4 separate regions of the Homo sapiens genome follow, and all the other regions are linked to region 3. Evidence: fine-mapped expression QTL. A gene starts in region 3. Each other region holds a variant in brackets. All regions are shown on one strand. Distances are from middle to middle.

What was found. PIP is the estimated chance that this variant, and not a neighbour inherited with it, causes the effect.
Region 1: its variant is fine-mapped to the expression of HACD1 in whole blood (INTERVAL, PIP 0.90).
Region 2: its variant is fine-mapped to the expression of HACD1 in whole blood (INTERVAL, PIP 0.92).
Region 4: its variant is fine-mapped to the expression of HACD1 in lung (TOPMed, PIP above 0.99).

Annotation. Positions count from the first base shown.
Region 1 is chr10:17,645,450-17,653,656 of GRCh38, reverse strand. All of the region lies in intron 1 of STAM (signal transducing adaptor molecule), which reads right to left. Among named protein-coding and RNA genes, the nearest start is that of STAM, 5.4 kb to the right of the region's middle. The variant A/G (reference allele first, on the strand shown) is at 4,974.
Region 2 is chr10:17,552,017-17,560,223 of GRCh38, reverse strand. No RefSeq gene overlaps it. Among named protein-coding and RNA genes, the nearest start is that of HACD1, 61 kb to the left of the region's middle. The variant C/T (reference allele first, on the strand shown) is at 3,914.
Region 3 is chr10:17,612,517-17,620,723 of GRCh38, reverse strand. HACD1 (3-hydroxyacyl-CoA dehydratase 1) reads left to right here and starts at 3,350. Exons shown (of 7, transcript NM_014241.4): 1 at 3,350-3,641. The coding sequence starts at 3,385. RefSeq lists a silencer at 3,150-3,809.
Region 4 is chr10:17,694,190-17,702,396 of GRCh38, reverse strand. It overlaps STAM (signal transducing adaptor molecule), which reads right to left. Exons shown (of 14, transcript NM_003473.4): 7 at 7,156-7,348; 8 at 5,528-5,622; 9 at 2,118-2,206. Among named protein-coding and RNA genes, the nearest start is that of TMEM236, 54 kb to the left of the region's middle. The variant C/T (reference allele first, on the strand shown) is at 4,593.

The sequences.
Region 1 (8,207 bases), 33 kb before region 3:
GACAAGAAAAATGTCTCTATGTGTTCGGTACAGACATGATATTTTTTCCTCTACAAGTTTTGATCCACTGTTGTTTGAATCCATGAATGCAGACCCCCAGATACAAACAACCACCTGTATGGAGCTAGATCTGGGAGGGTTCCAAACATAAAGCTTCTGTGCTAGGAAGCTTCATCACCCTCCAAATACATCAGTGTGTATCACCACAATGTGTATCACCTACCAGAATGCTTAACTGAGCTTCAGTGTTCAGAGTTTTTATCCTGTTTTATCAAAACAACCTGTTTTACCAAAACAAACATTTAACTCTGTGAGATGAATCCACACATCACAAAGCATTTTCACAAATAGCTTGTTTCCAGTTTTTATCGCGGAATATTCGGTTTTTCAGTGTAGGTTTCGATGGACTGGGAAATGTACCTTCATGGATTCTACAATTGGGGTGTCATTATATAGGTATGATTTATGAAATAGGACCACACAGTGGAACTTAATCTCCAGGTCCCTATCCTTCCCAGGAGGTCCTATGACTCAAAGCCCAAATCCTTTAATCACATGGTTAGTCCTTCTGGAGTGGCCAGCCCCCAGACCAAGTCATCTTATTAGCATAAACTAAGCTATTATCCCAGGGGCCCACCAAAAATAACAAAGATGCTCTTATCACTCAGAAAATTCCAAGGATTTAGAGGCTGTCTCCTAGGAAACAAAGACTAGTCAAATTATTTATCATTCAACACTATAAGAGAATTTTATCTTAAAAGAAACCCAATATATACAGCAAACCCAAGTGGAAGTGCTCTGATTGAGGAGTCCCAGAGCCTGCTCCCTAGGTACTCAACCCCTCTAAAGCCCAAGAATATTGAGTGAGTCATTCTGAACAATATCACTTACTTCATCTTAGAAAAGGAAAGCATGTTATTACTTTGGTCTGGTAGTGCATTTTAATAATTAATTCATCATTCTCACTGACTGGTAGCCAAGCAGGTTGTTTTTTTTTTAAGTGCATTTTTTAAAAGAACACACTTAAATTCTAAAACCTGCCACCTTATTCAAAAACATAATAGCTAAGCATATTAAAACTTATTAAAAAGTTAACAGTTTATCTGATCAAATATAAATTGCCTACTATCATAGTTGAGTGCTATCTTACAGTTCTTGATTAATGATACATCCAGGAACATATGATACAGTTATCAGCAGATATTATGTTGAAAACTCATGAACTACTTTATTACTTTCCTACACATAAATAGAATCAGCATCTGATTCATATTTGTATGGATGGATCAGAAACACAACCCACTTCAGAAATCTAAAATTGTTCACATCATTTATTGAGGCTGTCTCAAAATCATCAAAATCAGTGGCACAATTCTTCTCAGTTATAAAAGAACAAGTATTTTTTTTTTAATCAGAAGGATATAAACTACCTACAACATGGTTCTGTGAATAGCAAATGAAGTCAAAACTATTTATTTTCTAAGACAAAAACAGGGTTTGTGGGAAAAGGAAAAGTGACAAAAATAACAGACTTGCTTCTAAAGAATTCAAAGCTTCATAATGATCTCATTTTATCCTGAGAATATCCTTACACTAATACTCAAAAAGAGGAGATTGAGAAATCTGCCCAGCAGTACCCAGAAAAAACATACACAGAGCCTCATTTGAATTTCAATAGTCTTTTCAAAAGATTAGAGAACTTTTTCTGATAAGCAGCAACTTTTGATTTTTCTCAAAATTTATCACTGTCAAAGATCTGGGGAGGTAAGAAATGCTGACAGGAGGACTTCGCATCACATTTAGGTGGTGAGGAAAGGACTGTCATTCAGTCAGCCCGAAGATGTAACAGTTCATTAAAAATGGCCAATGGAAAAGTAAGTCTGAAAGAAATTATCCTCTTTGCAAATCAATTCTTCAAAAATCTTTCATCTAATATCCCTGATCCTCCTGGAAACTGTATCTGCAAAGAAATGTAATCTGAAGCTCTGCTAACCAGAAAAAGAAGTAGGTATCAAAAGAACAGCATGGAAGCATTTCAGAGAGGAACATAAAACAGAAATGATAACCTAAAGGCATTAGAAAAAACAGCTTAGAGGAGAGGTAAAATAGGGACAGAAGAATCAAAGAATACAAGTTCTTAATCCAGTGGATATCAGATGGTTAACATACTTGTATTCTGAATTTTCACATTTCTCTCCTATGTTTTAACAGTAACTGATTGCACACCTTAGAATCCAATAGTCCCCACATCTATTTCTAACTTGATTATAAAAGGAGCTAAAACGTATCCATTGGTTACTACATGCCAGGTGCTATGCTAAGTGCTTTACATGCATCATCTCCTCAAAACAAACCTACTGAGGATTAATGAACAAATAGGTATGTCAAGCCAGAGGATCCACACCTGAAGAGCACAGTGGCATAAAACCAATAAGGAGTGAAATACACCTGCAAGAAAAAAGTGGAAGGTGAGGCTCAAGAGTCACAAAGAAGCCAAATATAAGAGGCCTTACATGCCCTGCTGAAAAGTTCAAAGTACTGTGAAAGCGGTAGATTCTTCAGAACTTTTTTTTTTTTTTTTTTTTTTTTTTTGAGACGGACTCTCGCTCTGTCACCAAGGCTGGAATGCAGTGGTGTGATCTTGGCTCACCGCAAGCTCCGCCTCCCAGGTTCACGCTATTCTCCTGCCTCAGCCTCCTGAGTAGCTGGGACTACAGGCGCCCGCCACTACGCCCGGCTAATTTTTTGTATTTTTAGTAGAGATGGGGTTTCACCATGTTAGCCAGGATGGTCTCGATCTGCTGACCTCATAATCCGCCCACCTCGGCCTCCCAAAGTGCTGGGATTATAGGCGTGAGCCACCGCGCCCAGCCCTCTCTAGAAATATTTTAAACGGAGGGGCCACGCGTACATTCACATTTTAAAAATATCACCATCAGCCATCTGGAAAATAACTAGGGAAAAACTGGAAGCAGGGAAGAACAGCTGGAAGCTACTGTACTAATCTGAGAGAGTGGTGATCTAAACCTGGAATCCTTGAGGGCATATTCGGTACCAGGGTATCTGGCACAGGGTAGACAGGATACATTTGTTGTTTAGAATGTAGAAAATTACAACTACAGAAGTCAAGAATTACTCCCAAGTTCACGACTTGTATGACTAAGTAAACTTAGGTACCAACTATCAAAACAGACAAAAAGCATAATTGAGAAGAAAAATTTCAAATGGTTTTGAACATGCTGAACTTGAGATATTTGAAGCCTATTCAACTCTGGTAAAGAGTCAGAATGTCATGTGTTTTCACAAGTAATCCTCATAGCATCCGCATGATGTATAATGGATATTGCTATCCCTATTTACCAAAGTAGAAAGTGAATTCAAAGGGGTCCTATACCTATCCAACTATACATTGTGTCCATTTACTAAGAGTAAATGCTGCAGGTGCAATTTAAGCCCAAAGCCCAAGGTCTTTCTATCATATCACACTTCAGGAGAATGTGACATTAACATTTAAGATTCATCTAGCTTATGATTTATGAGGCTGACTGGACTAAGCAAAGCAGACTAAAAAAATGTCCAAGTATGTAGGATGTGGACTGGCCCAAAGCAGTCTGACTGGGAACACAAATATTCTATTATAGAAACAAAGACATATGATGATTTAGCAGAGGCAGGGAAATGATTCAAAGATGCCTCTTGGGTTTCAAGTCAAGATAACTACAACACTAAAATATTACCAAATTGGCTGGGCCCGGGTGCCTCACATCGGTAATCCCAGCACTTTGGGAGGCTGAGGCAGGCAGATCACTTGAGGCTAGGAGTTCAAGACCAGCCTGGCCAATATGGCAAAACCCCATCTATATTAATGTAAAAAAAGATTTAAAAACAAACAAAAATGTTACCAAATAATGAATGAAGAGCCAGACTTAGAAAGATAACTTCAGTTTTCTGACAGATGAATTTGTTTTGGAGGGAAAAAAGAACAGCAAATAGAAATACAAGACTAATGTTCTAGAAAAACACCAATAATTCATTATTTGATAAATAATTCTTGAGTGCTTTCTATGTACCAGACACTATCCCTAAAGTATTAGGGGAAAAAAAATGAAAAGTTCTCATCTTAATGGAGTTTATATTCCACACAAAAGATAATCAATCAATTAATGTCAGGTCACTAAGTACTATAAAGAAAAAGAAATGGAACAAAGAAACAGAGTGAGAGGGTAAAGATGCATTTTTTTTAATTCTTTTTTTTTTTTTTTTAAAGACAGGGTCTCACTCTCTTGCCCAGGCAAGAGTGCAGTCATAGCTCACTGCAGCCTTGACCTCCCAGGCTCAACCAATCCTCTGGATTCAGCATCCCGAGTAAATGGGACTACAGGCATACCACCATGCCAGCTAACTTTTTTATTGTTTGTAGAGACAGGGTCTCATTATGTTGCCCAGACTGGTCTCCAATTCCTGGCCTCAAGGAATCCTCCTGCCTCAGCCTCCCAAAGTGTAGGGGTTACTGGCGTGAGCCACTGCATTCAGCCCAAGAAGGATATTTTTTACAGAAGATTATTAGGTAAAGCGTCTCAGAAAATGACGTTTGAACAGAGTCCTGAATGGGTGTGATGAATATCCAGACCTTCAAATACCTGGGTGAGGAGTATCCCAGGCAAAGAGTACCATATAGCTACAGAGGCAGGAATGAGCTTGGAGCGTTCAGATTTAAGAAGCCTGGAATTCAAGAGAGTGAGTCTGGAGATCATAATCATATCAGACACACAGGAAGAAGCCATATTGTGAGCCACAATAAAAAAACTTGCATTTCCCTTTAAGTAGGATAGGAAGCTACCAGAGAACTCTGAGCAGGTAACTGACATTATCTAACATTTTTAAAAGATCACTGACCTTTGTAAATGAGAACTGATTGTAGAGGCAAGAGTGGTAACAAAGAAACCTACCAGAAGGCTCTTGCCACTGACTAT[A/G]AGAGATAACAATGACTGAAGTAAGGTAAGAATGGTGAGACAGAAAAAGGTGATGATGTGTCCGGAGTTTGTTCCCTCTGGTGGGTTTGTGGTCTCGCTGACGTCAAGAATGAAGCCACGGACCTTTGTGGTGAGTGTTACAGCTCTTAAAGGTAGCACGGACCCAAAGAGTGAGCAGCACCAAGATTTATTGTGCAGAGTGAAAGAACAAAGCTTCCACAGCATGGAAGGGGACCCGAGCCGGTTGCTGCTGCTGGCTAGGGTGCCCAGCTTTTATTCTCTTATTTGTCCCCGCCCATGTCCTGCTGATTGGTTCATTTTACAGAGTGCTAATTGGTCCATTTTACAAACCTCTAGCTAGCTACAGAGCACTGATTGGTGCATTTTACAAACCTCCAGCTAGCTACAGAGCACTGATTGGTGCGTTTTTACAGAGCACTGATCGGTGCATTTTACAATCCCCTTGTAAGACCGAAAAGTTCTCCAAGTCCCCACTTGACCCAGGAAGTCCAGCTAGTTTCACCTGTCAATGAAATTCTGGATATATTTTTAAAGTACAGCCAAAATATCTTGCTGATAGGATGAATGTGAAGTGTGAAGAAATAAGAAGAATCAGTGATACTCCTAGACATTGGAGCTCAGTGACAGGAAACAGTAATCATGTTGTCGTCTACTGAGAAGGGCAAGGATGAAGGAATGAGCAGGTTTGGGCAAAGAACTAAGAATTGAGTTTTTGAATGTTTGTTTTTAGACTCTAAGCAGAATCCAAATGGAGATGCTCAGTAAGGAGATGGATATCTAGGTCGAGAGCTCAGGCAAGAGGCTGAGAGTAAGAACATAAATCCAGGAGTCACCAGAATACGCTAGGTATTTAAAGCTAAGAAATTAGATGAGGTTCTTTTTAAAATCTTACTTAATAAAAAGTACAGAAATTTTTCTAAGTGCTTTACAAATATTAACTCAACCCTCTTAACAACTCTCTGAGGTAAGAACTATTATTACTCTTATATTCCATATTAAAGATAAGGAAACTGAGACACAGATTATCTAAGCAACTAGGCCAAAAATCACACTACCGGTAAGCAGCAAACCTGGGACTGAATCCAAGCAGTGTGGCCCCAGTCTGAATTCTTAACACTAAGCTAAATTGCTTCCTAATACTCTAAGGGAAAAAAAAAAGTGGAAGGAGAGAAGAGGCTCCGGAACTGAGCCGCAGGGCACTCAACTTTTAGAAGTTGCAAAAAGGGGAAGCAAAAAAATTTAAAAGGAGCTAAGTAGAAAATGAGAAAAAGTTTGGTGTCCTGAAATCCCATGAATAAAATACTGTATATCAAAGAGGAATGCTTAAGAGATCAAAAAAGAAATGGACTAGAAAGTGACCATTGGATTTGGCAAGGTGGAAGTCACTAGAGACTTTGAAATACAAACTTGATGAAATAAGTTATCTTTACGTTTCTTCTAAATTCAGCTCTTGAATTATAATGTCCAAAATGAGATTCATTTATTCCATAAATGTTTACTGAAAGTTCTTCAGCATGCCAAAAACTGGTCTACAGCTAGGGATACGGCAGTGAAAAAATCAAACAAAAATCCCTGTCCTCACAGAGCTCACATTCTAGTAACATCTTTCGGTGTTTCTTCCAAGGGAAAAGCTATCACCAGCATTGTGTCTCTTTATAAAAAATGTTATATTATATAAATCAGTCAGTGAATTTCTGATTCAGCCTCAGATTAAGACTGAAGACAATTAATTTTGAAGATGTGCAAATGTATACGAGTGTTAAGTGATAAATAACTGTATCAAATGAGTTACTTTAATGTTATGACATATTCATTGGTAGATATGGTGAAAGAAAAAATTGTTAAGTGTATTCTATACACTGTATTCTATATGTTATACTATTAAAAAATAATATGAGTCTACTGGACTCTGTGCAAGGCTTATGTACTGGGAATCTCTGAGGGGTCTTCTTAGATAAACCTTTTGTAATATTTCAATACAAGGATTGTGAGAAGAGAATTGGTCCAATACCAAAACCTGAGCAACTTTAAAAAGTAAGCTTTTCTGGAGCAAAACAATGTTGCTACACTGAAGAAGTATAATGTCTGGCAGGCTCAACTGACACATTCTCAACTCAACAAACATTATTAAACACCTCCTATGTAGCAACCTCTCATTAAGGAGTATAAAACTATCTTGAATGCTAAATAATTCGGTAAAGGCAAAAATGCTAAAATAAGTTAGAGGATTTTGTAAGAAGGTGGAAATTAGAGTGGACTAGTGCAGCGGTTCTCAACTGGGAGGTATTTTGTCCTTCCAGGGGGCATTTAGCAATGTCCTGAGACTTCTAAAATCATGAGTGGGGGCTGGGTGTCACCGGCATCTAGTGGATAAAGGCCAGGGATAAGGCTGAACACCCTACATTGCACAGGACAAACTCCTATGACAAAGATATTTACCTGGCCCAAACCGTCAATAACGTTGCTACTGAGAAACCCTTTGCTACAGTAATCAGGAAATGACTCAGGTGTAACAAGTTGGATTCTGAGTTGGCCTTAACACACAAGGATATGTTGAAAGATAAAAGAAAGCATAAGCGTAGGACAAAAGCATAAAGGCAAGAAGGTGCCTGTGTTTGAACTGGGTGGTACAGCTACTAGGAACGGGTTTGACATTAAGAAATTTACCTGAATCCAATGCAAATATGTGTTCACAAAGTCAGTAGAATATAAAGGTGATTGGGTAGTTGCTAGCTAAATTATACAGGACCAAGAAAACTAGACAAAGGTGCTGTAAACAGAAGAAGCAAGTATTAAGAAGCTGTTTTAAGTATTTCCCCTAGAGATTCATGTAGTGAGATGTAAAACTGCTTGAGAACAGCAACTAGGCCTTGCTCATCACTGTATCTCTTATGTCACTGAGCTGCTGTGTCCTGTAGTGTGTGCTAACTGCTTATTAAATTAAATGCAATTTTCCAATTCATTAAGTATAATCGGTGATCTCCAAGGTTCTGTCCACTGCTAAGATTCAGGACACTCATTTAAGGTGGAACAAAAAAGGTAGCATCTAGTAAGTGCCAACCACATAAAGGTACTGTAGCAGGCCCTCTAGACATATTATTTAACTGCAGAATGGAATGATGTGTTTTCCCCTCTTTAAAGACAAGAACACTGGAACTCAAAGAATTTAACTTGCCTATGATTTCACCGTGAGCTGAGAAGTGGCAGAGGTAA
Region 2 (8,207 bases), 60 kb after region 3:
AAGCCGAGATCGTGCCACTGCATTCCAGCCTGGGAGACAGAGTGAGACTCCATCTCAAAAAAAAAAAAAAAAAAGAGAAAAGTAAAAAAAGAAAATGTAGTATATATACACAATGGAATATCATTATGGAATTTTATTTCATAAATAAGAATGAAATCTTGTCATTTGCAGCAACATGGATGGAACTGGAGGCCATTATGTTAAGTGAAATAAGCCAGGCACAGAAAAGCAGATGCTCATGTTCTCACTCATGTATGGGAGCTAAAAACAGTGCAACTCATGAAGATAGGGAGCAGACTTGTGGTTACCAGAGGCCAGGAAGGAGTAGGGAAAGGGGATGAAGGGAAAAATAAGGATATAAATGTTTCTGAGGCATGGCTGGGTGCGGTGGCTCATGCCTGTAATCCCAGCACTTTGGGAGGCCGAGGCAGGCAGATTACTTGAGGTCAGGAGTTCGAGACCAGCCTGGCTGACACGGTGAAACCCCATCTCACCTAAAAATACAAAAATTAGCCAGGCATGGTGGCGCGTGCCTGTAATCTCAGCTACTGGAGAAGCTGAGGCAGGATAATTGCTTGAGCCGGGAAGGCGGAGGTTGCAGTGAGCTGAGAAAATGCCACTTGATTCCAGCCTGGGCGACAGAGCGAGACTCCATCTAAAAACAAAAAATGTATTTGAGGCAAGATGGGTAGTCAAGGAAATGACCACGTTCTTGGGACGTAGCAACCGTGGTGACTGTACAGTCAACACAATAAGCCTCAGCATTTGCATTGTAGTTGAGCTCATTCAAGCAAAGTTATCTTCAGTAGGGACTTTCTCCTCGAGAGTGCACACATATTTTGATTTTACCTGTCCTCAAACTCACCCTTTGATCATTATAATAGTAAAAAACACACCCCAGTGTGGAGATTTAAGATGCTAATGAGACATATGATGTATGAAGAAGCATGTACAGCTACTGTACATGTGCACCCAGAAGACCACCCAGAACATGCTTACTAGCAACGCCTCTTCCCACTCCCTCATGAATAATCATGTAAGACTCCCTTTCCCTAGTAACGGTCTTTGCTGTCTCGTCCTTATGAGCAGCTTGCCCTGAATCCTCTCTCCCTGAGGATGTACTGTCTATTCTGTACCTAACTTTCAAAATATTCTTTTTCCTTTGCAATAAATTACTCTATGCTGCATGCCCTACACTGTATGTCTCTTGTTTAAATTCTTTTTTTTTTTTTTTTTTTTTTTCTGAGACGGAATCTTGCTCTGCCACCCAGGCTGGGATGCAGTGATGCAATCTCGGCTGACTGAAACCTCCGTGTCCCGGGTTCAAGCAATTCTGCCTCAGCCTCCCGAGTACCTGGGACTACAGGCACGCACCACCACACCGAGCTAATTTTTGTAATTTTAGTAGAGACGGGGTGTCACCATATTGGCCAGGCTGGTCTGGAACTCCTGACTAGTGATCTGCCCACCTCGGCCTCCCAAAGTGCTGGGATTACAGACGTGAGCCACCGCGCCCAGTCTCTTGTTTAAATTCTTTTAAACTAAGAAGGCAAGAACCGAGGTATCACAACAGCCATCAATGTATTTCTTACCACTGAACTATACACTTAGAAATAGTAAGGATGGTAAATTATAGGTGTATATTTTATCTCAATTAAAAAAAAGACTTTGCCAGATGTGGCTCCTTGATGTTGGATTCTTAGCTTCCATAACTGTAAAAGATAATTCCTTTTCTTTATAAATTACACAGTTTCAGGTATTCTGTTATAAGCAATAGGAAACAGACCAAGACAGAGGTTCAAGGACCTATCATAGGAAGAGTTAGAGGCAGGAAGACTTCTGTATAATTTCTTTGAATACTTTATTTGTTTATTTTACTTCATTTTATTTATTTATTTATTTATTTTGAGACAGAGTCTCGCTCTGTCCCCTCCAGGCTGGAGTACAGTGGCGTGATCTCAGCTCACTACAACCTCTGCCTCCTGGGTTCAAGCGATTCTCCTGACTCAGCCTCCCGAGTAGCTGGGATTACAGGCACCCGCCACCACACCCGGCTAATTTTTGTATTATTAATAGAGACGGGGTTTTACCATGTTGGCCAGGCTGGTCTTGAACTCTTGACCTTAGGTGATCTACGCACCTCGGCCTCCCAAAGTGCTGGGATTTGCTGGATTACAGGCGTGAGCCACCACGCCCAGCCTTCTTGAAATACTTTAGATTGTGTAACAGGGTCACATTTCACCCCTCCTGTTATGTATGTCCTCACACATATGTGTGGGTTTCCCGTCCCTTCCTTTCAGAAGTGGGGTCTTTTTCTTCATCCCTGTGCGTCTGGATCACCCTTGTGGTTTAACTGAAAGAATATGGTGGAAGTGATGTGTACGCAACCTAGAGCTTAGGTGTCAAGAGGCTGTTGAGTTTCTGCCTTCATTTTTTTTAGAATTCTGTCCTAAGATATATAATGAAGTCAGGCTAGTGTGGAGGAGGATGAGAGGTCACATGAGAGAGAAACAAAGAGCTCTAGGCAATAGCCAGTGACATCTGTCAGTCAGGCACGTGAGGCCATCTTGGATCTTCCAGCTCAGATCGTCCCTCAGTTGAAAGCAGCCACCTAATTGAGCCCAGGCAAAACCAGTGGGGGACCACCTAGCCAATCCACAGATAAAGATCACTGTTATTTTAAGACATTAATTCTAGGTGTGGTTTGTTACTCAGTAACAGATCACTGAGACAGTGAAATTTGTGGTCAAGTTGTCCTAAAAATGGTATGGAGCTCCTGTGAGTTAGTGAGTTCACCATCAATGAAGGTATTCAAGTAGCGGGGGAAAGAGGAGGATCATTTGGGAGAAATAATGTAGCGGAAGTTTAAATATCAGAAGAGGGGACTAGATGTTCTTTTTTTTTTTTTTATACGGAGTCTTGTTCTGTCACCCAGGCTGGAGTACAGTGGTGCAATCTCAGCTCACTGCAACTTCCACCTCCTGCGTTCAAGAGATTCTCCTGCCTCAGCCTCTGAATAGCTAGGATTACAGGCGCGTGCTACTATGCCCAGCTTATTTTTGTGTTTTTAGTAGAGATGGGGTTTCTCTATGTTGGCCAGGATAAGACCAGATGTTCTTAAAAGTTTTTTCTGATCACAAGATAATAATCCTAGGGACCTGATTATGTAATGATCATCTTAGGTATGCCTGTCATTATGCACCATATATACAGACCGTTTTCCTGGCAGATGATTTCTATCAAATGAGAGAACAAGATTTACATACATAAGAATTAACAAACAGAAACCGAGTTAAAAATTGGGCGACATAAGAAATCATTAAATATAAATCTTAGAAGTGGAATGGGAGGTGGAACTTGAAGATCATTTGCTTCAGTTTCGCTCCAGTGCTGAGCTTTCCTCAACAACAGCCCTAGTGGATTAATATACAGCCCCTGCACAAATATGTCAAGTGATGGCACCATCCATTTTGGGGCAGGCCATCCTCACTTTTTTGAACGTTCATCCATTCCCACTATTAAGACAAAATTTGCATCCCTGTAACTTTCACACATTTACTCCTTGTCTGCTTTCTAAAACCACAGAGAATAAGTCTAATTTTTCCACATGGCATCTCTTCAAATGTCTAAAGACATTTACCTATTCCTTCAGGTTAAAGACAATCAGTTTCTTTAAATATTCTTTTTTGTTTGTTTGTTTTTAGACAGAGCCTTGCTCTGTTGCCCAAGCTGGAGTGCAGTGGTGCAATCTCGGCTCAGTGCAACTTCCATCTCCCAGGTTCAACCAATTCTCCTGCGCCTCAGTCTCCTGAGCAGCTGGGATTACAGACATGCACCACTACGTCCGGCTAATATTTTGTATTTTTAGTAGAGACAGAGTTTTACCATGTTGGCCAGGCTGGTCTCGAACTCC[C/T]GACCTCAGGTGATCCACCCACTTTGGCCTCCCAAAGTGTTGAGATTACAGGCGTGAGCCACGGCTCCCAGCCTAAATATATATATAGTATATATGTGTGTGTGTGTGTGTGTGTGTGTGTGTATATATATATAGTATATATATGTATAAATATATATATAAAATATATATTTTATACATATATATATTTTTGGAGACAGGTCTTGCTCTGTTGTCCAGGGTGGAGTGCAGTGGTGGAGTCATGGCTCACTGCAGCCTTGAACTCCTGGGCTCAAGCAATCCTCCCACCTCAGCCTCCCTAGTAGCTGGGACTACAGTTGTATGCCATCATAGCTAGTTAATTTTTGTATTTTTTGTATATTTTGTAGAGATGGGGTTTCACCATGTTGCCCAGGCTGGTCTTAAACTCTTAGGTTAAAGCTATCTGCCCACCTCAGCCTCCCAAACTGCTGAGATTATAGGCATGAGCCACTGTGTCTGGTTGGTTTCTTTAAATATTCTTTAGGAAATTATTTTGAGACACTATTGTATCTAATTTATACTTTACACAATTTTTTTACACACTTCAGTTTTTAAAAATGTCTTAACATCTGATGCGCAGGACTAAGAACAATATTCCACATATGTTCTTACCAGTGATTCACAGGATGAGACTGTTCATTTCTGTAATGTGGCCGCTATACCTCTGTTTTTGAGACACTAGGATTCCAGGATGGAGGATTTGGGAATGTCTCACTGTAGTATTGTGCTATTGATGTGGAGAGGAGACAAAGAGGGGGACTGTATTTGTCGTTTCTAGAGGGACAGAATATATATAATATATATAACTGATGTATATATTTTTATATATATCATAATATTATATATATTCTCTAGAGTGACAGAACTGATATATATATATATATATATATATCATATATATAGATTCTCTAGAGGGACAGAACTGATATATATATATATATCATATATATAGATTCTCTAGAGGGACAGAACTGATAATATGTAATATCTATTATCTATTATACATATTACCATATATAATCTATAATATAGATATATCAGTTCTGTCCCTCTAGAGGATCTATGTATATTAAATATATTATATTATATATTATTAAATATGTCATATATCATATATATTATTAAATATGTTATTTAATATAAACATAAATATATATATTTAATATATATTTTATATAATATATATCATATCATATATGATATATGATATATAATATTATATGATATATGATATATAATAGATGATATATGATGTGTGACATATATTATATATCATATATGATATGTGACATATATTATATATCATATATGGTATGTGACATATATTATATATCATATATGGTATGTGACATATATCTATATCATATATGATATGTGACATATATTATATATCATATATTATATGGGAGTTTATTAAGTATTAACTTACATGATCACAAGATCCCACAATAGGCTGTCTGCAAGCTGAGGAGTAAGGAGAGCTAGTCTGAGTCTCAAAACTGAAGAACTTGGAGTCTGATGTTCAAAGACAGCAAGCATCCAGCACAGGAGAAAGATGTAGGCTGGGAGGCCTAGCCAGTCTCTCTCCTTTTCACATTTTTCTTCCTGTTTAATATTCACTGGCAACTGATCAGATGGTGCCTACCAGATTAAGGATGGGTCTGCGTTTCCCAGCCCACTGACTCAAATGTTAATCTCTTTTGGCAACACCCTTACAGACACACCCAGGATCAATACTTTATATCCTTCAATCCAATCAAGTTGACACTCAGTATAACCATCACAAGGATAAAAGTCACGTCCTTATGTCACTGCTAATAGAGAGCTGGCTGGCTCTCCCCTTTTTGTCGTCCCCTTATATAAGAAACCCTACTTTGGTGATGGTAAGGTTTCTGTCTTCTCTGTTGGCCAAACCCACTGATCTCATTAACTGCCTGCAGACTCAGTCTGGAACTCACGCGGTTGAAGAGCTCAGTCTTCCTTCCCTGTATCCCCTAGTTGTTGGTCACGTCACTGGAGATTTGCCTGTATTTCCAACCAGCCTGCAGCTGATAGCACTAGACTGAATTTCTCTGATGCACATTCTTCTCTGTCCTTTAATGAAAGTATTGCCAGGAAACATGCAATCCCCACTTTCATTATTTACTCCTCTTAGCCCTGGATCTATGACTTTGGGGAAGCCAACGTGAGACAGAGATGGAGGGAGAGGTGGAGGATGTGGTGGTGGTGATGTTAGGTATGGTGGGTTCTCCGTCTCTATGTCTTCTCTGCCTGGCCATACCAGGCTTTTTTCCCTACTCTAGCAGTACTTATGTGGCCCAGTGAGTGAGACGCCAATTCATCCTGTTACCCACATAACTATAAATTTTTTAATATTAAAAATTATTTTTTGTAGAGCTACAGTCTTGTCATGTTGCCCAGGCTGGTCTTGAACTCCTGACTTTGTGCAGTCCTCCCACCTCAGTCTCTTCAAGTGCTGGGATTACAGGTATGAGCCATAGCACCTGGCCCATATAACCATAAATTCAACTGTTTTGAGGGTTGTGCCCTTGGTTTTGCAAAGGCGAGGACTGCATTCTACCAAAATAAGCCCTCTTCTTTTTCTATCCCATTCATCTTATAGCTCTTGTTAGTAAAGACCATCAAGATATCTAAGGACAAGGACAGACATCTCATACCAAGAACCAGACCCCCACTGAAATGCCGCTTGGGAAATGTAATAACGTCATTCTTCACCGAGATTCCTGCACTATTTTATAACTGAGAGGTGCAAGAGTAGCGACTAACTCACTTTTTATTTTGTTACATGTATCAACTGCCTCTTCTTATTGAGCTTGCAGCCAATTACACTCTATTTACTGACACAAGTGTGTGAAATAGATAATCATTTGGAGAACAGCATGCTAATTATGGGCTAAAAAAAGTTAAGAAAACATTTCATTTGATTTTTGTCCTGAAAAAAAGCATAGGATTGCAATGGGATGAAATTCCAGATTGAAATGGTATGAGCAGGAGTGTGGTGGTGGGACTGTCTTGTGAGTTGTAGGGTGGGGAATGGGAAGAGGGCGATGGGGTTAGAGAGGATGTTAGCTGATCTGCAGATCTGTCCCCACAGTCTTGGCAGACGCTGTTGAATAATTTACAGGTTTCAATTCTAAAGAGTCTTGGATCTAGGCTGAAGAATTTAAACGAGGCTATTGAGAATTTTTGAGAGAGAATTAAATGCAGATATTACATTATATATACATATATACATATATAAAACTATATATGTATATACAAAATATATGTGTGTATATATGTGTAAACATATATACACACATATATTTTTACAAGTATATATTACACACATGTATACATATATACATATTTATATATATTATACATACACACATATATTTAGAGATAGAATTTCACTCTGTTGCACAGGCTGGAGTGCAGTGGTGGCACAATCACGACACACTGTAGCCTCCACCTCCGGTGGTCAAGCGATCCTCCCATCTTAGCCTCCCAGGTGCCTGGGACTACAGGCACACACCACCACACCCGGCTAATTTCTGAATGTTTTCATAGGATGGGGTTTTGCCATGTTGCCCAGGCTGGTTTGAACTCCTGGGCTCAAGCAATTCACCTGCCTCGGCCGCCCAAAGCGCTTGGTGTACAGGCATGTGCCACTGTGCGCAGCCAACATTTGATATTAATATGGTGATCATGTTCAGGATAACCATGAGAGAAGCAAATTAAGCCTTTGTAACATGCAGTTGTAAGATAAAGAAGATTCGAGTCATGGTGGAAAGGAAGGGATTTGTTTGAAAAACACTGAGAAGAGGAAAACAAAATCTTAGAAAATCTGAAACAAAATGAAAGAAACCCTCATTTTGGCCCCAGGTGATGTAGGCCTGTATTTCATAAAAAGGAAGAAGGAACAGAAAGGCAATGGTAGCTGCAGTCTGACTCCAAAAGTCTTGAGAATAGCATAGGTTTTTCTTGTAAGTTTCCTTTTTAGTAGTTTCATTCAGCATCGCACACAGAAGAATTCCTAAACATTCTACTTAGCTACCTCTCACTTCCCCAGATTTTCCTTTTGCGGCAGGCACTAAAAATCCCCTCCTTTATCAATCTCTTCTTTTTCCCTTCTCAGTCTCTCTACTGCTTTTGTTGTTGATCCAGCCTACCCTCCTCCCCAGAATTCTGCACAGGATCCTTCCCTCCATGTGCAGTCTCCTGGGAAGGCCTCGTGTAGGGAAAACTCTCTCTCACCGTGCTTTTCCTC
Region 3 (8,207 bases):
TTCAAGACTTAGTGTAGACATATGTTTTTATTTCTCTTGGTTAAATACCAAGAGTGAAATTACTGGATCATATGCTAAGTAAGTGTATATTGATGTAAGAAATTGCCAAATTATATTCCAAAGCAGTATTCTTTTTAGCCTTGTATGAGAATGCCAATCCCTGCTAACATTTTAAAATATTAGCCACTTGAGTGGTTGTGTGGTGCTATCTCATTGTGGGTTTAATTTGCATTTCCCAAATGACTAATAAGATTCAGCACTTTTGCATGTGCTATTGGGCATTTCTTTTTTACTTTTTTTTTTTGAGATGGAGTTTTGCTCTTGTAGCCCAGGCTGGAGTGCAGTGGTGCCATCTCGGCTCACTGCAACCTCCGCCTCCCAGGTTCAAGTGATTCTCCTGCCTCAGACTCCCAAGTAGCTGGGATTACAGGGGCGTGCCACTACGCCCAGCTAATTTTTGTATTTTTAGTAGAGACGGAGTTTTGCCATGTTGACCAAGGTGGTCTCAAACTCCTGACCTCAGGTGATCCGCCTGCCTTAGCCTCCCCAAATGCTGAGATTACAGGCGTGAGCCACAGTGCCTGGCCGGCTATTGGCCATTTCTATATCTTTGTGAAGTGTGTATTCAAATCTTTTGCTCATTTCAAAAAATTGAATTGTTTTATTAAGTTGTAAGCTTTCATTATATGTTCCAGATACAAATTCCTTGTTAGAGACATCTGTCGTGAATATTTTCACTTTTTTAATGTTGTCTTGAAAACACAGATGTTTCCCATTTTGATGAAGTTCAATCTGTCTTTTATTTCCTTTTTATGATTAGTGCTTTTTTCTACCTCCAAAATCTTCACCTTCCCCAAAGTCACAAAGATTGTTCTGTATTTTCTTAGAAATTATGTAATTATAGCTTCATGATTAGGTCTGTCATTCATTTCAACTTAATATTTATCTATGGTGTGAGGTAAGATTTATTTTTTGATATGGGTATCCAGTCATTTCATTTACTGAAAAGATTATATTTTCCACATGGAAATTACCTTAGCTTCTTATAAAAATCAATTGACCACATACATATGGGTCTATCCCTGGACTTGATTCTGTTTCACTGATTTCTATGTCTCACCTTATGTGTACCACAGTGTGTTGAAAACTAGTTTTATAGTAAGTCTTTAAACCAGATGTATATGTGCTCCAACTTTCTTCTTCCTATGTACCTCTGCATGAATTTTATAGTTAGCTTGTCAAGTTAAAAAAAAATCTGCTGGGATTTGGAGAGAATTGACATTTAACAGTATGGAGTCTTCCAATTCATGAACAGGCAACAGCTATTTATTTAGATCTTTCATTTCTCTCAGCAGAGATTTATAGTTTTGAGCAATGATTTATAATTTTCAGTGTATACGTCTCACACATATTTTGTGAAATTTATGCCTATATAGTTCATGTTTTTGGATGCTGATTAACGTTGTATGGTTTATTTTAAATTTCATTTTCCAGTTGTTCCGTGTACACATGTAGAAAAACAATTGATTTTTGTTATGTTGATCTTGTAGTTCCAGGAGGTTTTTTTTTTTTAGGATTCCTCGAGATTCCTGGGATTTTCTAGGAAACACATTGCTCTCATTTGCAAACAGTTTTACTTCTTTCTTCCCTTTATTTTATTTTTATTCTTTTTCGAAAAGAAGTCTCGCTCTGTCACCCAGGCTGGAGTGCAATGGGGCGATCTCAAATCACTGCAACCTGTGCCTCCTGGGTTCAAGCGATTCTCCTGCCTCAACTCCTGAGTAGCTGGGATTACAGGCGCCCGCCACCATGCCCCGCTAATTTTTGTATTTTTAGTAGAGACGGGGTTTCACCATGTTAGTCAGGCTGGCCTCAAACTCCTGACCTCAAGTGATCTGCCTACCTCGGCCTCCCAAAGTGCTAGGATTACAGGGGTGAGCCACCACACCCAGCCTTCCTTTCCTTTTTTTTTTATTTTTTTGAGACAGAGTCTCACTCTGTCGTCCAGGCTGGAGTGCAACGGGCGATCTCTGCTCACGATTTTTAAAAATTATTTCCACTAAGGAAACTGAGGCATGGATAGGTTACGTTGTCCAAGTTCACACAGCTAATAAAATGGGAGGATTCAGGAATTTGGGGGTTGTATTTCAGTAGGTGCAAGGAATTTCAAAAGGTAATGTCATCAGTTAAGGCAGGAACCGGCCACACTTCTTTAGTGATTCTTCAGTTACTTTAGGCCATCTGGATGTATACGTGCAGGTCACAGGGGATATAATGGCTTAGCTTGGGCTCAGAGGCCTGACACTTGGTAAATAGACACACACACAGACACACAGACACACAGACACACACACACACACACACACACGCTCCGGTAAAATTCACACAAGTGAGGCCGGGTGCGGTGGCTCACGCCTGTAATCCCAGCACTTTGGGAAGCCAAGGCGGGTGGATCACTTGAGGCCAGGAGTTCGGGACCAGCCTGGCAAACGTGGTGAAACCGTCTCTACTAAAAATAACAAAAATTAGCCGGGCGTGGTGGTGCATGACTGTAGTTCCAGCTACTCGGGAGGCTGAGGCAGGAGAATCTCTTGAATCAGGGAGGCGGAGGTTGCAGTGAGCCGAGATCACAACACTGCACTCCAGACTGTAAAAAAAAAAAAAAATAAGAAATGAAAAAGGAAAAAAAAATCACTCAAGTGGGACGGTCTTCTCACTGTTGGAAGACCTGTTGGACTCGCTAGTAAACGGGAAACAGGGCGAAATAGGCGTTTCTTCCCCAGAAGCTCTTAAGAATGAATGAATGTTTGGCCCAGCGCTGTGGCTCAGGCTTGTAATCACAGAACTTTGGAAGGCAGAGGTGGGAAGATTGCTTGAGCTCACGAAATTGCAGTGAGCTATGTTCACGTCACTGCCCTCCAGCCTAGGAGACAGACTGAGACCGCATCTCTAAAAAGAAAAGAATGAGTGGCGGGAAGATCCCGCTCCCTGCCTGCGTATTGAGAAACTGCCTTACAAAAGGCCAGGCAGGGCAGAGCCACGCCAAGTTCAGGTGCGTTCCCTGTGTCCCCACTAAATGCACTCGCAGGGTGCGCATCGCCAGGGCGCAAGGCGTCTGGGCGTCTCTCTATGAAGAGGCGCCCGCAGCTAGCGAGGCGGGTGCACTTTCCTCGGGAGCGGAAACTACAGCGCCGCCTGGAAAGCGTGCCGGGGCTCGCGGGTCCTGGATCCCCAGTGCCAGGGCCAGGCGTTCTGGCCCCCGAGTGGCGCGCGCTCCCAAGGGGCGGGGCGGGGCGGGGGCGTGACGGGCGGTGGCCGGGGGCGTCCGCTCCTCCCCCTCGCGGTCGGTAGAGCTGGCTGCGCCGAGCCCCCTGCGCGCTGCACATGGGGCGCCTGACGGAAGCGGCGGCAGCGGGCAGCGGCTCTCGGGCTGCAGGCTGGGCAGGGTCCCCTCCCACGCTCCTGCCGCTGTCTCCCACGTCCCCCAGGTGCGCGGCCACCATGGCGTCCAGCGACGAGGACGGCACCAACGGCGGCGCCTCGGAGGCCGGCGAGGACCGGGAGGCTCCCGGCGAGCGGAGGCGCCTGGGGGTCTTGGCCACCGCCTGGCTCACCTTCTACGACATCGCCATGACCGCGGGGTACGCGCGCCGCGGGGCACCCTCGGGCCCTCCCCGCGCCGCGGTCCGCGGAGGTTCCGGGTTCAGGGGGCGCGGGCCGGGGTGTAAGGGGCGCGGGGGGTGCGGGCAGCGGCCGTGGGGGAAGGGAGCTGTCGCCGCGGCCACCGCCGGGGTTGAATGGAGCGGGCGGGGGGGCCGGGCCCTGCGCGCCTGGCATTGCCTAATACGGTGCACGGCGGGGCGCTGGCCGGAGGTTAAGTATAGAACCGGGCAGGAATGCGGTGCCGGCCCGCGGGGGAGGTGGCTGCTGCCCCGGCGCCGCTGCCTTCGCTGCTGTTGAAGGAGCGCCCAGCCCTGGCCACTCGATGGTCTCGGGAGCGCAGAGCTTCATGCTGCGATCGCTGGGCAGAGTTTTCGCCCCTGTTAATTTCACCGCGACTTTTTTTTTTTTTTTTTTTTAAAGCACAGCACGTCCTAGAGCTTGTCACTTGGGACGATTTTGAAATAACCACCCCACTTATCCCAGCGTGGAGCTCCTGCCCAGCATCTTTATGGCCTCAGGCTCCGTGGCTGATAAGCTGGACCTTGATTTTTGGCTTTGAGTATGACTTTGCAAGTTAAGGTTACACAATGACTGTCGCTCTTCGCAGAGCTCTCAAAGTGACTTTTGTGTCAACTGCTTCTCAAAACCTGTTGGGAAAATGCTTTTCCATTTCTCAATTGCACTGCCTTTTAAAAAAGTTATTTTCCCATTATCACTCGAAGTATTAACTTATGTAAACGCGAGGAAAAGTTTACTATTTTCTTTTTTTCTTTTTATTATTTATTTATTTATTTTGAGACGGAGTCTCGCTCGGTCTTGGCTGGAGTGCAGTGGCGGGATCTCGGCTCACTACAAGCTCCGCCTCCCGGGTTCATGCCTTTCTTCTGCCTCAGCCTCCCGAGTAGCTGGGACTACAGGCGCCCGCCACCACGCCTGGCTAATTTTTTTGTATTTTTAGTAGAGACGGGGTTTCACCATGTTAGCCAGGATGGTCTCCATCTCCTGACCTCATGATCCGCCCGCCTCGGCCTCCCAAAGTGCTGGGATTACAAGCGTGAGCCATCCCGCCCTGACAGTATTTTATTTTATTTTTTAGACGGAGACTCATTCTGTCGCCCAGGCTGGAGTGCATTGGCGCGATCTCCGCTCACTGCCAACCTCAGCCTCCGGAGTTCAAGCGATTCTCCTGCCTCGGCCTCCGGAGTAGCTGGGACTACAAGCGTGGGCCACCACGCCCCATTAATTTTTGTATTTTTGGTAGAGACAGGGTATCACCATGTTGGCCAGGGTGGTCTCGAACTCCTGACCTCAAATGATTCCCCCACTTCGGCCTCCCAATGTGCTGGGATTACAGGTGTGAGCCATCGCACCGGGCCTAATATTTTATTTTAATTTTTTAAAAATAGAGATGGCCTCTCACTGTGTTGGCTAGGCTGGTCTCAAACTCCCGGCCTCAAGCAATCCTCCCACCTCAACCTCCAAAAGTGCTGGGATTACCACTTCCGGCTTAATATTTTAAACTTTCTCCAGGGTTTATAGAAAAATGTGATTGACAAAAATTTAATAAATCTTTACCTATGGTGATTGAGTTTCTATTATGTGCTTAGCATATGATATTGAATGCCAAATACAGTTCATACAAATGTTATTTACTGAGGACTTACTATGCAGGGGACTGTGTTGGTTATTTTAGGTGTATTTTTAGTCCTTTAAAGTCCTGTGAGGGGCACATGATATTACATTATATAGATTAGAAGAGTGAGGCACAGATACTTGCCCAAGATCACAGCCAGCAAGTGTCAGTCAGACATGGGTTTCAACCCGGACTCTCTGACTCCACTGTCCTGCTACTTCATCTTTCTTTCCTCCTAAATTATACTCTTGGAAAGTGAGAAAACTAATGTATTTACAACAATTCAGCAATCACGAAATGATGCTGCCTTTAAATGCATTCGGAACTGAAAGAATTCTCTCACCTCTGTGATAGTCTGGTTAATAAACGTTTCCGGAGCCGGGCGCGGTGGCTCACGCCTGTAATCCCAGCACTTTGGAAGGCCGAGGTGGGCGGATCACGAGGTCAGGAGATCGAGAACATCTTGGCTAACACGGCGAAACCCCGTCTCTACTAAAAATACAAAAAATTAGCCGGGCGCCATGGCGGGCGCCTATAGTCCCAGCTACTCCGGAGGCTGAGGCAGGAGAATGGCGTGAACCCGGGAGAGGGAGCTTGCAGTGAGCCGAGATCGCGCCACTGCACTCCAGCATGGGCGACAGAGTGAGACTCCGTCTCAAAAAATAAAATAAAATAAAATAAAATAAACGTTTCCTTGTTATTTCCTTTTTTTTTCTTTTGTTAAGCCAAGCCCTTGCTCTGTTTTCCAGGCTGGAGTGCAGTGGTGCTTACTACAGCCCCAACCCCGAAGCTCAAAGCAATCCTCCTGCCTCAGCCTCCTGAGTAGCTGGGACTACAGGCGCACACCACCATCCTCAGCTAATTTGAAAATTTTTTTGTAGAGTAGGCCGAGCACGGTGGCTCACGTCTGTAATCCCAGCACTTTGGGAGGCTGAGGCGGGTGGATCGCCTGAGACCAGCCTAGCCAACATGGCAAAACCCCGTCTCTATTAAAAATACAAAAATTAGCCGGGCATGGTGGCACAGGCCTGTAATCTCAGCTGCTTGGAAGGCTGAGGCACGATAATCGCTTGAACCCAGGAGGCTGAGAGATCGTGCCACTGCACTCCAGTCTGCACTCTGTCTCACACAAAAAAATAAAACAATAATAATAATAATTTCTGTAAAGACAGGTTTTTGCTATATTGCCCAGGATGTTCTCAAGTGATCCTCCCACAATGGCTTCCCAAAGTGCTGGGATTACAGGTGTGAGCCACCGTGCCCAGCCAGTGAACATTTTGAAATATCTGCCTTGTGTTAACTGGGTGTCTGTCCTTTCTCTTTTCAGTTGACTCTCTGTCTTGAAAGCCAACTGATATTTCAAAAATGAACATCAATGCATAGCTCCAGTTTAAAGACTTCAGTGACTCCCTGCCACCTCCACCCTGATCTAAGGGATTCAGGCTATCTGCCATTCAAGGCTTTTTGCAATCTGCTCCCGATTCCCCTTTCCAGTCAACTTGCATTTGATATCTCTGACTCACTCGTCCCTCAAAGCACCATGTATTTTCACAGCGCTCTGCTTCTGTGCTCAGGTTTTTCACTTTTGTATAATGTTCTCCTGTTATTCCCATGACTTCTAATCAAATCTACCTCTTTGAAGTTTTCCGGGTCTCCTGCCTTACCTGGTGCAGAATTAAATGCTTTCTCCATTCTGTCCCTCTGACCCTTCCCCGGCAAATCAGGGCTTGTTCTAAACTTGTCTCCTTCTGCCTCTACTGAGAAGTTTCCTTGTCATATTTACAAAAATAAGGGATATTGAAATGGAATAATCTCTGTAACTGACTCTTCAGATGCTTTCTAGAGGCGGTGAGATTTGAAGAAGGAATAAGATTTGCATACATAGAGAGTAGACATTTCAGGTGATATAAATTCTGGAAATAGGCATGATATGCAAGCCTGATGTATTCTCTTGATTGAACTGGAGGGTGCTGTTGGGGAATAGTGGTAAATAAGGTTGAAGAAGTTGTAGTGTTGAAATCGGGACAAGAACTTACACGTTTTATAGGGTGGACAGCAGAAGACTAGTTGAGGCTCTTTTTGTTCATTTAACTTATTTCTCTGTTAACAGAACTTTGGCGTGTTTATTAATTTTTTTGTAATAATTTTCAAAACAAGTGGGGAACAGTGGTATGCACCTGTAATCCCAGCTACTCAGGAGACTGAGGCAGGAGGATTGCTTGAGTCCAGTAGTTTAAGACCAGCCTGGGCAGCAAAGCGAGACCCCATCTCAAAAACAAAACACACACACACACACACACACACACACACACACACACACACACACACACCCCAAATTGCAAAGCAACGGAATAGTATTTAAGAAATATTATAAAATTTTACATAAATGTAAAATACAGCTTGTTATTTTATCAGCCTATCACACACTTTCATTTTCTTTTTATCTTTCATATGAATATTTGACCTCTTCCAAGTTTTTTTGTTTTTGTTTTTGTTTTTTTTTTTTTGAGACGGAGTCTTGCTCTATCACCCAGCTGGAGTGCAGTGGGGAGATCTCGGCTCACTGCAAGTTCCGCCTCCCGGATTCTCGCCATTCTCCTGCCTCAGTCTCCTGAGTAGCTGGGACTACTGGCGCCCGCCACCACGCCCGGCTAATTTTTTTTGGATTTTTAGTAGATACGGGATTTCACCGTGTTGGCCAGGTTGGTCTTGATCTCCTGACATCGTGATCCGCCCGCCTCGCCCTCCCAAAGTGCTGGGATTACAGGCATGAGCCACCGCGCCCGGCCCCCTCTTCCAAGTTTTTACTCAAAACTTCATTCTCAAGGAGGCCTTACCTGGTCATCTTAATTTGAATAGTGAAACACATACTCCTTATCTCCCTTGCCTGTTTATTTTTCTCCATCCCACT
Region 4 (8,207 bases), 82 kb before region 3:
TCTCTGTCATGTATTTCAAATTGTTTTTTTCCTTGAACTTATCATATTTCTACTCAATTTCCCCTCCAAAATTTTATCCTAATATACTTGAAAGTTTTCTACCGATGACCATATGGGATTTCTTTGCACTAAAAGTATGTAAACTGATAATACTCTCAGTATTAGATTCATTCATATGTATAAGGTAATGATTATTATTATTAATATGCAAAGGGTCAAAACAACATTAACTATATTTCAAGTTTTGAAAAGTAAAATGAGCCAGGATTCAGCACCAGTTCTATTCCTATTTTTTGTTTTTATAGTTGAAAGTGAGGAGAAATTTTGTTCATATAATCAAGCTATTATAGCAATTTCATTAAGTTCTTTCGGTATCTTCTGAAAGATGGAATGGAATGACAGTGGTCTGTCATTAAAAATTATTTTTAATGATCTACTAGCTGAAAATTCATTTTGGTCCTATTTTTTAAAAACAAAAAATATGGAACCATCTCAGCTGTGTTAACTAGTCATTAGAGCCATGACTTTCTTAATACCAAAACCAGTATATGAAATCATCCCTGGTAATTCTTATACTCTGAGGCAATGTACCACAGTAATCTTCACTACGGGCAAGCGGTAAGCCTTTCTTCCGTAAAGTTGGAGAGAAGAATTGAAAAGGGAGAGGAGGGGGGTAAAAACGAAAATGGTAGGAGAGAATGTTCTCGGGCAGATCAATTTTAGGAAAGAATGCTATGGTAACTGAGGATCGGAAAAGATTCTCTTTAAATTATCCATACCAAGGGCCAAGCAAACTTTTTCTGTAATGGCCCGCCAGTAAATATTTCAGGCTTTGCAGGCCATATGATCTCTGTTGCTACTACTCAATTCTTCCACTGCAGCACAAAAGCAGCCAAACAATATATAAACAAATTTATCTGTGTTCCAATAAACAGGCAACAGGCTAAATTTGGCCTAAGAGTTTGCCAACTCCTGATCTATACAATGTGACACTTCAAAAATCCTTAATGGTTTGCTAGTTGCATAATTTAATGTATTATTAACTCAACAGTTGTTAATGTTATTTTTAAAACATGGTAATAAGTTTGAGTAGAAAAAGACAACCACAAACATACTTTTTATTTTTTCATAAACACGCTTAAAGATGAAAAAGGTAGCCAGTTTTAATCTTTTCTTTATATGCAGTAACAGCAGATATTTCTATAAAACTTAACTAAATAGGAGTGATTAACTTAATTCAAGAAATCTCAAATTTAAATCCCAATAATACCAATTTGGGTACCATTATGTGGCTCCAAAAAGTATGGTGTGTCACCAAGTTGATATTATATTTTTGAGCATAATTACTAAAAATATACATTGTTTCAGGTGTGACAATGACATATGAAGACATTTAATATAAAATTAGCGTAAGCTTTTCCTCAAATACTAGAAAGTGTTCAACACAAGGAGGAATCATGAATCATCTCCAATGATATTCAATATATTAGCACTGCTTTTATGCAATGATTTATGTAGAAGTAATTTAATGACAATTTTATTTTTACAACAGTAATTTATTTGTTTCAATAGATAGTCAATGAGTGTCCCTTCCTCAGTCATGTGCAAACAATCTTAATATCCTTGTTGAGTATGCTGGGAAACAGGAGTTCTCGCATGATATGAATACGAGTGTAAAAACTTGTTTTGCTCAACAATTTGACATTATCTATTAACATGGAAAATACACAAATCCTTCAACTCAATAGTTTCACTCCTGAATATCTACCCTAAAGAAACACAAAGATAGATGTTCAAAAAAAAAAAAAATCTCACTACTACACTGTAAAAACTGTAAACAACCTAGGCATTCAACAATAGATTAAATAAATCATGGTAAGGCCACTCTACAGAATATTCAGCAGGAATTTAAAATAATGAGGCTCTGGCACGGCAAACAAAGGACTGGAGAGGAAGTTTCAAAAAACAGTCTGCATCGTCTATATTGCTTGAATTTTTATAAAAAAATACAAAAATTTTTACAACAAAAAAACTCAAGTAATCAATTTTTTCTTAAAGCAAAACCATTTAAATTTCAATACAAAGTACCAACTCCTATCACCATGGAAACCACTTACTTCATCAATAAAGGCTGGTTCCGGCTCTGGTTCTATTGTCTCTACCTGAACATCATCACTAAATTGTACCGTCTTCTTCTCTGTTTTAACTGTAAGATATGTAAAAGTTATCTTTTTTTAATAATACATTTAAAATTCTACTTTAAAGCACTTTAACTTCCAAGAGAGATTTGGGGATTTTTCTTATACTCCCAGCAAGCTAAAAGGCGCAATTTAAGAAATAACTGAGTTGCAGATTTTGGCAGTAATAACACAACATTACTTTATGAAATTGGATTTCTTAATTTTCTCTTGTAAACATTTTACAGTTTCCATAAAAAGAGATTTCACTAATAATAAGAGTTGTATTTCTGAAAAAAGGTTAATCACCTACTACACATCAGAGTTTAGTAAGCTGGAGGACAAAAGCAAAGTTTTACAATGGCCTAAGTGAATTCTGCAATTTAAAATAAACCCTCTTTTTAAATTACTAATCCTTCAAGAAAAAATCTCATTTGGTAGAAAAAAAAAATCTGGTTTGACAGAAAATCCACACTACTCCAATGTAATGAATGGGAAAATCAGCTATGTATTATCTGGCGTGCCACGTAGGCGTTTAGAGAGCGCCGTCCATGCCAGTGGAGAACTTTGCAGGTGGCCTTGACAGGGGTCTCAGTCTTCCAACAAATCAGCCTGTATTTTCTAGTTATATAATATTATCATTTGACATTAAAAAGTGGTCATTGAGGGATCAACAATTCATTGGCCAGAAGCACAGATTTCTCCTACTCACCAAAGCAATCTTTAAAAACAATTTAACATAACAGTAGCTATATAACAACCTCCAAATACTACTGAAAGGCATATACAACTCTACTAAACAAACTTCCTTTCTATATTTTTAATCCTTGCATCAATGTGGTCAATCAATTCATAAAAATATTAAGAATCATGATGGAAAGGAAGACAGGAGGGGGCAATTTAAGGAAGGGAAATAATGTTTATTAAACTATTGAATATGCTTGATGGAATATTACATTTCCTCCAATGAATCTCCCAATCTTATGAGATATGCCCTTTTTATAAATAAGGTAGTTTGGAAAGATTAAAAACTTTTGTAAAAGAGAAAGCTAATAAATGACAAAGCCTGGATTTGAATGCCAATCTATCTTGCTCTACTAGCCCATACTACTGAAATCTGGCCTGTGCCAGTGATTTTACCCCGAGAACATGAAGTCCAATCACTTGGGTACTCCGTGTTGTGTGCTTCTGTATAACACAGAAATAGCTTAATTTCCAACCTAAGAAATATAATCATTCCATTCAAGTCACCAAAAGCAAAATTCTACAGCTGATTCATTTTCCTATAAAGGAAAAGAAACATCTGCTGCAGACATTTTGCTTTTTATATCTTGAGCTATTACAAGTAGAAAGCTGGGATAGCACTGCATTGGCCATTACCCATAAGAAAAACATGGCAGACTTCATATTCTAACAGCTCTTGACGCGCAAGTTTGCAACCCCTTTTCTCACAGGAACTAATACTATGTGTGTGTAAAAAAATATATTATTTATATACAATATATAACAAAGGGATTTCACAATATTTTACTGTATCTCCAAACCAAAAGCAAGCTAAATAGGGCAGCTATTTCTCTTTGACAGGCTAAGTGAAATAGACTTCTATTTCCTCAAAAGAATGATGCTCTGGGGATCATGCTAGCACCTGCACCTGTTCTCCACGCTTGAGAACTACAACCCCACTACATAGGCTCTGATGCTTCAGTTTCTCTTTTAGATCGTCCAGAGTGAAAAACATGAGAAAAACTAGAAAACTCATATTGAAGCTGCATTGCTATATGACTTAAAAAAAAAAAAAGATGAAATGGCTCCAGGATCTACATGAGATCCTTGACCTTATCTTGAACAGAACTCCAAGCAATTCTATCCTCTCCAGGAACTGATTCAGGACAAAAAAATAGTCCAAAAACAAACAAAACATCATTACCAGCCCAGGTTATTAAAAAGTCAGCACACTACGCAATGCCATTTAAACAAGGTTGACATGTTTTTGAATTCTCACAGACATAGAAAACATCATTGAAAGACTGGGTCTCACCAATCTGTCTCTATAAAAATGACACCAGACACCCTGGCAATAACTATGAGAGCGCACCATTTTCTTAAAGATCTGTAATTTCTGGTTTGCTGTTCAAGCCTTCTCTTGAAAGAGAAGTGAAGTATCTCTTTATTGTTAACATATATATTTCTGTATCATTTATTCTATAAATATGTAGTATGTATTATAAGACTCACTATTAGGAGCTGCTGGAAATAAAAAGATGACCAGGACAAAGATTTTTTTTCTTAAAATTCTTATAAACTAAAAAACACCTAAGCATCTTGTGGTTTGTAATTTTCTTTGATCCCTTCTATCTAGCATTAAAAAACGATAATGAGATATTTTGCCAAATAACTGTAGCATATCAACCTATA[C/T]ATATAAGCTCTTTAAAAATTTTAAATATTTTATTACAAATACAAATCTTTCTAGATTTGAACATATTTTTCTGTTTTCCTAGAGGGGAGATTATGACTTAAACTTTGCTTGATGACTAAACTCATCATTATGAAGATTCATTAAAGCACAATATTATGTAGAAATATAGTAAACTGTCTCTCACTACTTTGACCGACTATGTAGCTATGTCTCCTGAAACTGTTAAGCCTGCCACTAGTATCACTTTTTCTCCACGGCCCCACTTTCTAGTTTATTATCCTACTCAGCAGGGTTTGTAAATCAAACAAAAAACTTTTATATGATTAGTAAAAATGGCTCCTTCTGAATATCTGACATGTTGCTTGGAGAACACTGCTTTCAAGTCTGGGACTACACACTAGAGAAACGGTCCCAACCTTTGAACAAGAAAAATCCTCCCTGAGGTTATACTGTACTTGTCACACTGTAATCAACTGGTAAGAAAAATATATAATGTATAAATTCTGTAAGACTTCTTAATGAATTTGCATTTTTACAATGACCTCTACATAGATACATATGAAAAAGAAAAGTTAGGCCAGGTGCGATGGCTCACGCCTGTAATCCCACCACTTTGGGAGACTGAGGCGGGTGGATCACCTGAGGTCAGGAGTTCAAGACCAGCCTGGCCAACATGGTGAAACCCTGTCTCTACTAAAAATACATACACACACAAAAACAGCTGGACATGGCGGCGGGTGCCTGTAATCCCAGCTACTCAGGAGGCTGAGGCAGGAGAATCACCTGAACCCAGGAGGCGGAGGTTGCAATGATCCGAGCTCGCACCACTGCACTCCAGCCTGGGCAACACTGCTCTAAAAAGTTCAGTTTACTCAACTTCCATTAAGAAAAGGATTAGAAAACATCATTTATTGGCAGGCTGGAAAATACTTACTCATTTCTGGTTCAGCAGTGAGATCTGCAGTCACAAAATTAGAAGGAAATAACCCTATGCCTTGATGGGTTTCACCTTTCCACCAGTTAGGATCACTATGACAAACAAAAAACAATGCTTTACCATAACAAATGTATTTATTTCTGTACATCTTTATCTTTTGTAGTATTCAACTTACACTATTACAAAATTTGAATCTCACAATAACCCACTGAAAAAGCCAATGAATCTTCCTTTATTACAAAAGAAGAAGAAGCCTCAGAAAAGGTAAGAAGCTATTCAACACACAGTTGTTTATCTTCTTGACTGCCAATGCATGCTCTGCAGTTATGGACTCTCTCCCAAAAAAAGAGGCACCAATACGAAAAAATTGTCAGCTTCAGATGGTTCACAGGCTCCAGAGTAAGAAGTCTTTGTAATGAGCTATAAAGACAGGCTCTTATTTTCAGTCTCCATTCCTAAATCATTGCTCTTTCTGGTACACAGCAGCAAGGTTTTTTTTTTCTCCCAACAGAACGAATGTCAAAGATGACACTGTTCACAGTGCAAAACATTCGCAAAGAGTACACTCCTAGGTGTAAACTCTAGTATATGGAAAGCTAGCAAGCACTCAATACATGTTTTTGAAAGAACAGACGTAAGGTTTTGGGCAATTTCCAGCTAACCAGCTCAAACTTTATTTTCTTCCACTCAAAAAAAAAAAAATGTTAAAATATGTCTGAATGTTTGTGTCTTCCCAAAATTCACAGGTTGAAATCCTAACCCCCAAAGCAATGGTATCAGAAGGTGGGGACTTTGGAAAGCGATTAAGTCATGAATGAGATTAGCGACCTTATAAAAGAGACCCCAGAGGGCTCATTTGCCCCTGCTGCCATGGGAGGACACAGCAAAATGACAGCCTTCTACAAACCAGAAAGTGGGCCTTCAACACACAGTCAATCTGTCTGTGAGAAATAAATTCCTGTTGTTTATAAACCAGTTAGTCTACGGTAGTTTGTTACGGCAGCCCAAATGGACTAAGGCAGTAAGTAAGAGAGACACTACAGGAAGAACTTTAAATCAATTTGAACTGATTTTTAAAAAACACCTGCAAATTTTAATACTTCATTATCAGTAACAAGCATCAGTAACAATTCATTTTCAAGTAAAACATCACAAAGCTATAGTAAAAAAATAAACTGATGCACTGTATCACCTCCTGAATAAATGTGTAATTCCATACAAAATAAATTTGTTCCCTATGGCTATACTGTTCTGTGTAAAAAAAACTCAATAGATTATATATTTCTTACAAATTGCATTAAGTACATATACATACTCAGTGTTTTTCTAAAACTGTAACCTTTTAAATAATGTAACCATCTATATTATTAGGTGGAACCGAAAATGAATAGATTAAACTAGGCCTCCAAAACAAATTATAAACTAAGTAATAAATAAGAAAAAAATTAAACAACAAAATAAGAATCCACCCAGTATAACACAAGCAAATCAGCCAACTGTCATACAGAGCAGCATCTGGGTCAATATTTATTATTGTATTTGGTAACTGCAATCAACAGGAATAATATGAAACACAGAAGCCATACACACTTTCATACAAATTTTAAATGTAATATTAACATTACCTGTCATCAAGAACTGTAATAATTTCTCCAGCTTTAAAAGTAAGTTCATTGTCTTCAGCAGCTTCAAAGTCATATATAGCACGAACTTTTCGGCCTTCATGTTGGTGGTTAGTTAAGAGACTGGATGTGCTTGGATACAAAGTGGAAAGGGTGGTTGACTGCTGCCTTTGTTCCTTGAGAGACAACTCAATGGCTAGAAAACAATGAGTTTTTAAAGACCCAAAATGTTATTATATCCAACAGTCTGAAGAAGTAGAAAAAGACATCAAGATAAAAGGTATTCTTCCTTCAATAGTATAGTTAGAAACTAGAACATATCCTGATACATTGAACAAAAATCATTTTGTCAGTTTATTCATTCATTCACAACTGAAAGTTTAAAAATAAATTAACAAAATTGGAACAGCATGAAAACTCCTATTTTTACTGAACAAATACAATGTAAATTATTCTGGGTAATAAAAAATACAAACTCTTAAATCTACTTTTCTTTTTTAGCTGCAGATATTTTCCTTGACCTTTTTTTCAAAATAATCATCAAAACTGCCTGGAAAGTCAAGAATATCAAGCTTCACTGCAGACTTAATAAATCAAAGCCTTAAAGGCAATCTTGGAGAATCGAGATTTTATTGCTCCAAGGGTAATTCTTACCAGTCTAAAGACTCAACCTAACAAATCCTCCAAAATAGATCTCAAACGTGTCTCTATCTCCACCACTACTTCCCAAGTGCAGACCATCACCATATGTCACTCAGGCTCTGAAATGTAATATCAGTGCATTGATTATCCTGCTTTCAATTCAACACAGAACCCTTTCTGCTCTTCCGCTCTTGTTTTAGAGTAATAAAAGAAACAATACGAAAACAAAACTTTAAAGCTACTAAAAGTCAATACAGAAAACTATCTTTTAGGACCTTGAGGTAGGGAACAATATTTTTCAAAAGCCATTACAAAGTAAAAATCATAATAAAAAAGCAAACAACTCTGGCCTTCACAAAACTTAAAATTTCTACTTGATAAAATACACCATTATCAAATTTAAGGTCAAAAAC